Linked DNA regions of Homo sapiens. The gene in region 1 interacts genetically with each later gene. Each region holds a gene or a part of one and is shown in the gene's direction. Other genes may lie near its edges.

Evidence for each region.
Region 2: changes in PLA2G4C (region 1) and COXFA4 together harm fitness less than expected from each alone (positive genetic interaction), as found in Homo sapiens cells (one large-scale study listed by BioGRID).

What each region holds. Positions count from the first base shown.
Region 1 is NC_000019.10:48,093,592-48,097,410, reverse strand, and holds part of PLA2G4C (cytosolic phospholipase A2 gamma isoform 1 precursor), read left to right. Parts: intron 1-488; exon of another isoform or gene 489-681; coding exon of another isoform or gene 682-712; intron 713-1,806; coding exon 1,807-1,947; intron 1,948-3,819. UniProt on the Homo sapiens protein: Calcium-independent phospholipase, lysophospholipase and O-acyltransferase involved in phospholipid remodeling with implications in endoplasmic reticulum membrane homeostasis and lipid droplet biogenesis.
Region 2 is NC_000007.14:10,937,935-10,941,853, reverse strand, and holds the start of COXFA4 (cytochrome c oxidase subunit NDUFA4), read left to right. Parts: upstream 1-1,700; 5' UTR 1,701-1,796; coding exon 1,797-1,838; intron 1,839-2,957; coding exon 2,958-3,046; intron 3,047-3,706; coding exon 3,707-3,764; intron 3,765-3,919. UniProt on the Homo sapiens protein: Component of the cytochrome c oxidase, the last enzyme in the mitochondrial electron transport chain which drives oxidative phosphorylation.

The sequences.
Region 1 (3,819 bases):
CGTGGCGGCGGGCGCCTGTAGTCCCAGCTGCTCGGGAGGCTGAGGCAGGAGAATGGCGTGAACCCGGGAGGCGGAGGTTGCAGTGAGCTGAGATCGCGCCACAGCACTCCAGCCTGGGCGACAGAGCAAGACTCCGTCTCAAAAAAAAAAAAAAAAAAAGAAAAAAGAAAAAAGTAAAGAAAACTGTAATAAGGGATGTTTGAAGGATGGCGGGGTGGGTGGGTGGGGCTGTCTCTCACTTTTTTTTTTTTTTTTGAGACGGAGTTTCTCTCTTGTTGCCCAGGTTAGAGTGCAATGGCACGATCTCGGCTCACCACAACCTCCGCCTCCCAGGTTCAAGCGATTCTCCTGCCCCAGCCTCCCGAGTAGCTGGGATTACAGGCATGCGCCATCACGCCCAGCGAATTTTGTATTTTTAGTAGAGACGTGGTTTCTCCCTGTTGGTCAGGCTGGTCTCGAACTCCTGACCTCAGGTGATCCACCCGCCTCGGCCTCCCAAAGTGCTGGGATTACAGGCATGAGCCACCGCACCCGGCCATCTCTCACTTTTTAGATGTCTTCCTTCTCCATAGGTCCGATTATCACCCAAATGCTGGCAGCTCTCCAGACATTCCAGTTTCTCTTTTGAGCTCATCTCTCTCCTGAGATCCAGACCTCCTTACCCTATTTCCTAAGCATAAAATGCACTCACTTGTTCAGCAACTGTGTCCTGGTAAGTTCTCACGATACATCAGGCAATGTTACCAGTTACCTGTGGTTGGGCGTCTCCTGGCATCTCAAGGCTCAGAAGCCCCCAGTGTGAATGGTGTTTGTCTGTTTGTTTGTTTGAGACAGAGTTTTGCTCTTGTTGCCCAGGCTGGAGTGTAATGGCACGATCTCGGCTCACTGCAACCTCTGCCTCCCAGGTTCAAGTGATTCTCCTGCCTCAGCCTCCCAAGTAGCTGGGATTATAGGCATGCACCACCACGCCTGGCTAATTTTTGTATTTTTAGTAGGGATGGGGTGTCACCATGTTAATCAGGCTGGTCTCGAACTCCTGACCTTAGGTGATCCACTCACCTCCGCCTCCCAAAGTGCTGGGATTACAGACGTGAGCCACCACGCCCGGCCATGAATGTTTTATCTCTCTCCTCGGTGTGGATCCTTGTGCTGTTTTCTCACCAGAGCAGATACAGCTGACTCCGTCCTTTCCATAAGCCCCACAAATTCAGTCATTCCCAGACCTAGAAATCACCCCCTCCTCATTTTCATCCTTTGTGCTCTTCTACATCATCCCCAGACCAGGTCTCCCAGTCTCCTGGGAGACTCTTGTAATTAGTTCCTCACTGGCCCGCCCATCCCAAGCTGTCCACCTCCTTCCCTGGCTACCTGATGGAAGTTTCCAGGATGAAAATCTGATCATGTCATTTTCTTCCCTGGAATATTCTAATGACTCACATTGGAATCATGCATTAGATTTATGCCCACAGACAATCCTCCATGCAATCGTGTGGCTACACTCTTCCCTTGCACTCCAGGATTCCATGGAGTTGCAGCCACAATGAGATGGAAGAGAGAGGCAGGGCTGAGGGTTCAAGCTCTGGAAAATATTGGAAACAGGCTGCTGTGGAAGTTATGAGCTGCCACCAGCAGCGTAGACTCAGGTCTGAGGATGAGATCCCCAGTGGTTTCTGATACCACACAGTCCATCTCTAACATTCTCCTGTCATGGTTGTAATTCCTCATTAATAGATTTCTTTTTCCTGCATACCTGCTACATTCCTGGTTCTGTGCTGGGACTCACTTGCCGTTGTATTTCCTCTGCAGAGACCTGGTTCGAGTTCACCCCTCACCACGCTGGCTTCTCTGCACTGGGGGCCTTTGTTTCCATAACCCACTTCGGAAGCAAATTCAAGAAGGGAAGACTGGTCAGAACTCACCCTGAGAGAGACCTGACTTTCCTGAGAGGTCAGCGCTGGGGTCAGAGGGGATTAAAAGGGGGTGGGAAGTGGAGGAGAGGCAAGAATTTTCCTTCTGAGGGTCTAGTTTGCCCAGCTCTTAAATTTCTTGGGGGAAAGAAAAGGACTTGGTAGGCTTCCAGAAAGAGGAATGGTGTATTCCTTCTGCTGAGTCTTCAGTGTCTCTCAAAGGTCTCCTTAATGCGGCAGATACCTGATATCCTATCAAACAATCCAGGAGAGGGAGCTTAATAGAGGGGCTCAAGTCCAGGGCTGTGGCTTCCAATAAGCAGATTCAGAATGTGTTTGGGATTACATGGTGCTTTGGGAGGCTGACCTGGGAGGATCCCTTGAGACTGGGAGTTTGAGACCAACCTCGGCAACATAGCAACACTGTGTCTCTACACAAGATTTAAAAATTAGCCAGGCATTGTGGCATGTGCCTGTGGTCCCAGCTACTCAGGAGGCTGAGGCAGTGGAAGGATCACTTCAGCATGGGAGTTCAAGGCTGCAGTGAGTTATGATCGCCCCACTGCACTCCAGCCTGGATGACAGAGAAAGATCTTGTCTCAAAACAAACAAACAAACAAACAAACAAACAAAAAACTAGAATGTGTTTTGGGCACCAGCAAAGCAAGGGGCATACAATTTTTTTTAAATGGGGTATTTCCAGAAAAAATTACAACAAAAACCAAAAACAAAACAGTCATAGTGAGTAAAATCAGAACTTGATTAAATGTCCTTGACTGTAGCTTACACACTGGTATCACTTTTAGTTGTGGCTTCATAATCTTCTCAGCATTCAGGGTCTGAAGGCATTACCCTGCTGGGCAGACAGCTCCCCTACATAGGACCAACCATGCCAGCTTGAGAAAGTCATTAATGTTACCTGAGCCTCGTTTTTCTCATAGGGAAAGTACTTACCTCAAAATGTGGGTGTGAGAGTTAGGTATGATCCACAAATAAAACACTCAGCCCAGTGTCCAGCACATGGTAGGAAATTAAGGATGGTTGACTCTCCATGATTTTAGCATACACTTTTGAGACACACTAGGAGCCTGATACTATTTTAAATGCAGGGGATTCAGTCATGAGCAGGACAGTGAAGGCTCATTCCCTAATGAAGTTTGCACTCCAGGGAAGGAGATGATGAATGAACACACACAAAAATAAGTATGTATTATAATGTCAGATCATAGTAAATGCTATCTTGAAAAATAATTCATGGTAAGGGACTGGAGAGTGACTACAGTATTATTTTTAATTGGTGGTCAGAGCTTCTGACAGGAGATGGCCTTTGAGCATGGACCTGATGAAAAGTGAAGCCATGCAGATATCTTAGAGGAAAAGCATCATGGACAGAGGGAAGAGCAAATGCAGAGACCCTGTATTAGTCCGTTTTCATACTACTATAAAGATACTACCCGAGACTGGGTAATTTGTAGACAAAGGAGGTTTAATTGACTCACAGTTTCACATGGCTGGGGAGGCCTCAGGAAACTTACAATCATGGCAGAAGGTGAAAGGGAAGAAAGAACCTTCTTCAAGTGGTAGCAGGAGAGAGAAGAGCAAGCCAAAGAAGAGCTGCCCAACACTTATCAAACCATCAGATCTCGTGAGAACTCACTCGCTATCACGAGTACAGCATGGGGGGATCTGCCCCCATGATCTGATTACCTCCCACCAGGTCTCTCCCTCAACATCTGGGGATTACAACTCGAGAGATTTGGGTGGGGACATAAAGCTTAACCATATCAGACCCTAAGCCAGGACCAAGTTTGTCTTACTCTAGAACCAATGAGAAGACCAGTGAGGCTGGAGCCTCCTGAATGAGGCTGAGAGAGAGGGCTAGAGAGGTAGGCAGGGTCCAGATCATATGGGA
Region 2 (3,919 bases), on another chromosome or scaffold:
ATGTTGGAATTCCTCGGCTCTGTGTCCTCTGTCTAAATTCTCAGTCAACTTTCTCTCCCTAAGTAATCTCATTCAGTCACATGGGTTCATTTCTTATCAGTAAACTGAGTCCTAAATTTATACTTATAGTGTAGTTCTCTTCTGCCCCATAGAGATCCACTTGAATTTTACATAGGCACTTATACATCATTCTCTACGGCTTATTTCAATAACTGGCATCAACAACCACAGAGCTGCTCAAAACTGAACCTCTGAAATTATTCTTAACTTCTCTCTCCTCACTCCTGGAGAGCCAACCACCAAGTCCTGTTGGTGCCACCTTCTAAACATCTCTGGAATCTTTTTTTCTCATCATTACATTCTCTACACTAGTTCAAGCTACCATTATCTGTCACACAGATTATGGACTATTGCAATGGCCCCTTGATAGGTCTTTCCCCTCTCACGCTTATCCCTTCTAATCAATTATTCACAAAGCAATCATTTAAAAACACAACCTTCCCAAGCTCTCAACATAAAACCCATGATGTTTAAGCGGTTATTGGCCCAGCAGATCTGATCCCCACCTTGCTCTCCCTTTTACTTTCCAGCCACACTAGACCTCATACAGCTCCCTCGGGTTTTCAATAGCTTCAGACCTTCACGTGTTATTACCTCCGCCCTGTACACCTGCATCCTCCGTTTTCACCTGGTTAATGTCCGCTCCTCCTTCAGAGCTAGTGTAACTTCCGGTGGAGCCTTCTCCTATGATTTCTAGTCCCAATTATTAATACTTGCTTGATCATTTGATTAATGCTTTAAGCTACGTATGAGATTGGAGAGGGTTCAGAGTGTACATTTTATCCCAATCCCCCCACCCTCCCCCGCAAAGCCTGTCCTATGGAAGTCCTTCGGGTAAAAAAAACAACGAAGAAAACAAAACAAAAGACAAATGAAAATTCGACTGGGGTAGTGGGAAAGATTATCTGTAGCTACACGACCATTGAAAACACATTTTAAAGATGCAATTTGGGACCAGGGACGGGGGATAGTGGCGTGTTGGAAAGGTCTTTGTGGCGACGAACTTTCAACCGAGGGCCAGGATCTGAGGGTTCAGAAATACACTGCCAGGACTATTATCACCTTTAAGTCATTTACTAGTTTTTAACTTCTGCTTGTCTGCGACAGCGTAACACAGGAAGCAGCTGCAGTCTTCTCAAACCGCAGCCGCTGACCTTAGCGGCAAGAGGCCCGACCTGCCCTCCAGGCGCCCGGCGCTCGGCTCCCAGAGGCGCCGCGCAGCTCCCTCAGCGGCAGTCACAGCTGGCCAGCGCGCACCCGGCACGCGCGCCCCCAGGGCCTCTGCGCGCGGACCCGGCTCTCAGGCGCCGCGGGAGAGGCCCCCTACTCACGGAGCGCGCGGCCCGTGCGCCCACGCTCCGACCGCATTCCTCAGTACGTGGCACCCTTGGAAAGTGCCTGTCTGGTCAATCGAAGAGTCCTCGTTTCGACCAAAAAAATTCCCCTCAGAAATATGCATGGCACGGCAATGAAGGCATTTCACTATGAAGTGGAATGATGATGGTCCGACCAGGTCAGGACGAACATATGAGGGGTTAGATCTAAGCAGGCACTATTAAAGACAGTCGCATCCGGGCCCTCCTGCCGCAAGCTGCCCTCCCAGCCAAGGGTCCTTCAGGTAGGAGGTCCTGGGTGACTTTGGAAGTCCGTAGTGTCTCATTGCAGATAATTTTTAGCTTAGGGCCTGGTGGCTAGGTCGGTTCTCTCCTTTCCAGTCGGAGACCTCTGCCGCAAACATGCTCCGCCAGATCATCGGTCAGGCCAAGAAGCATCCGAGCGTAAGTTCGTGACCGCTCTCCTAATGTTTTCCCTTGTCCTTCTTGCGTCGGGGTGCGCCTCTTTCTGTTCCCTGGGAACGTCCTCATTTACAGCCACTTACCGTCCGTCAGACCAGACCCTGCCTCGCCTAGTGTTTGTCATCTTAGTTGTCCCAGGCCTCTGTGACCCTCTACGCCATGCATTGTGGGGTTTTGTCTGACAGGAGGAAGGAGACGGACACTGCTCGGAAAAAAAACCTAGTTTTTTCTAGTTAGTGAATATTGGAACAGTCTGGTGGCCGCTCTCTTTTGCAGGTTGTGCGGTCCAGGAGGGATAGATGTGCGCTGTGTGGGTCAGAGACTAGCATAGGTCAGGTTCCCTATGTGTTATACCATCTCTGGAGGTTCTTGTATTCGCCGCATTGCACCACCAGGCCTTTTGGTAAATAAGAGGGGTCCGTGATCTTGGAATCCTCACTTTGTCTGGACGTCGTTGCTTTTGGGAAAATTTCGAAGTGTGGAAATTGCAGTTAAGTTCTTTGGCATCTCATTTTTCCTCAGCACATCAATGTGCTGTAGAGCTAAAAGTCTATGCAATCTTTAATCTGTCTTAAATCCGGTTCCCTAAATACGCAGCAAGCATTGGTAGCATTACGTTTTCAGAGATAATGCTTAAAGCCAGTATTTGTAATAGATACGTTTACTTATTCAGATTCTATTTTTCATACATCTTTATAGAGGCACCCTTAAATAATTTGCAAAGAATTTGTTTTTCAAGCCCCAGGATAAAGGAAGCCAGAAAATTTAATGGGAATGACATGTAAATATTAGAGAGGTGAAGAAGACTCGATACATTTTCTTGGAAATTTAAAAATGTACCTATAATTTGCTCCACATTAAAAAGTAAGACACTTAAACCAGAGTCATCTTAACATCCTTTCCAAATTCCATTTCTTTCTTTAGAACACAGTTATAAGAAATCTTACCTCAATGTAAGATCTACTTTATTTAAATTTTAAGACAAAACAGTCCAATAACAGTTTGAGACTTGGAAATCAATGTGCAGAAACTACTGTAATCTCTCGTTGGCCAGTGTTTTAAGTATTTGAAGATGGTTATTCTATTTTGTGTTTGGTTTAGTTGATCCCCCTCTTTGTATTTATTGGAACTGGAGCTACTGGAGCAACACTGTATCTCTTGCGTCTGGCATTGTTCAATCCAGATGTTTGGTAAGTACTTAAAAATGTTTAAAACTTTGATAGCTGATCAAGGCAGTTTAGGAGCCACAGTCTCTGTAGGGCGATAACATTAGGGTAGTAGAAAGAATGTTACATTTACAGTCATACAATAAGTTCAGATCTCAAATCTGCTGTTTTCATTTACTTTTTTTGGTTCATGAAATTATCTAATTTCTCTGAGTCTCGTTTTCTCTTTGGTAAAGTAGAACTGCTAATACCAAATCTTGTAATGTTTTGAGGATTGACATAAAAATAATTGTTTTTATAAAATAATCATGGTTCTCGGCACATGTAAATGTTTTTTGCCTTCACTTGCACATTTGCAGTTGAAAAACAATAGACAATCAAAAGATTGATTCATCATTATTCTATGCACTTTTCTGTATATCACTTTATTAATTAAATGGAAAGGTTTTGTGAAAGCCAGATAAAAAGTATCTTGTGATAGGGATTCTGTGTTCTACCTTTTTTCTAATTGATTACATGAGATTGCTTATTATAGATCCTCTACCTGTTTCAACTTCATAATGAAATAACACCATACCTCATCTAATAGAAAATAAGATTGATCTGTTCAAAAATGTATTCTTAGTACAAAACACTAAATAGTGCTTTATTATTATAACAGTCGTAATGTTTTATTTCTTTTAGTTGGGACAGAAATAACCCAGAGCCCTGGAACAAACTGGGTCCCAATGATCAATACAAGGTAAACTACAAAATTGTTTTAAAGTTGTTAGAAATTGTGTTGTAATAAGTTTTGTCATGGGGTGGGTTTTCTTGAAACTGGATATACGAGTAAAATTCCATTATATTGAACTTTAAAGAGCTGTTAGGTAGTTCTGTGAAATGAAAATGGTATAT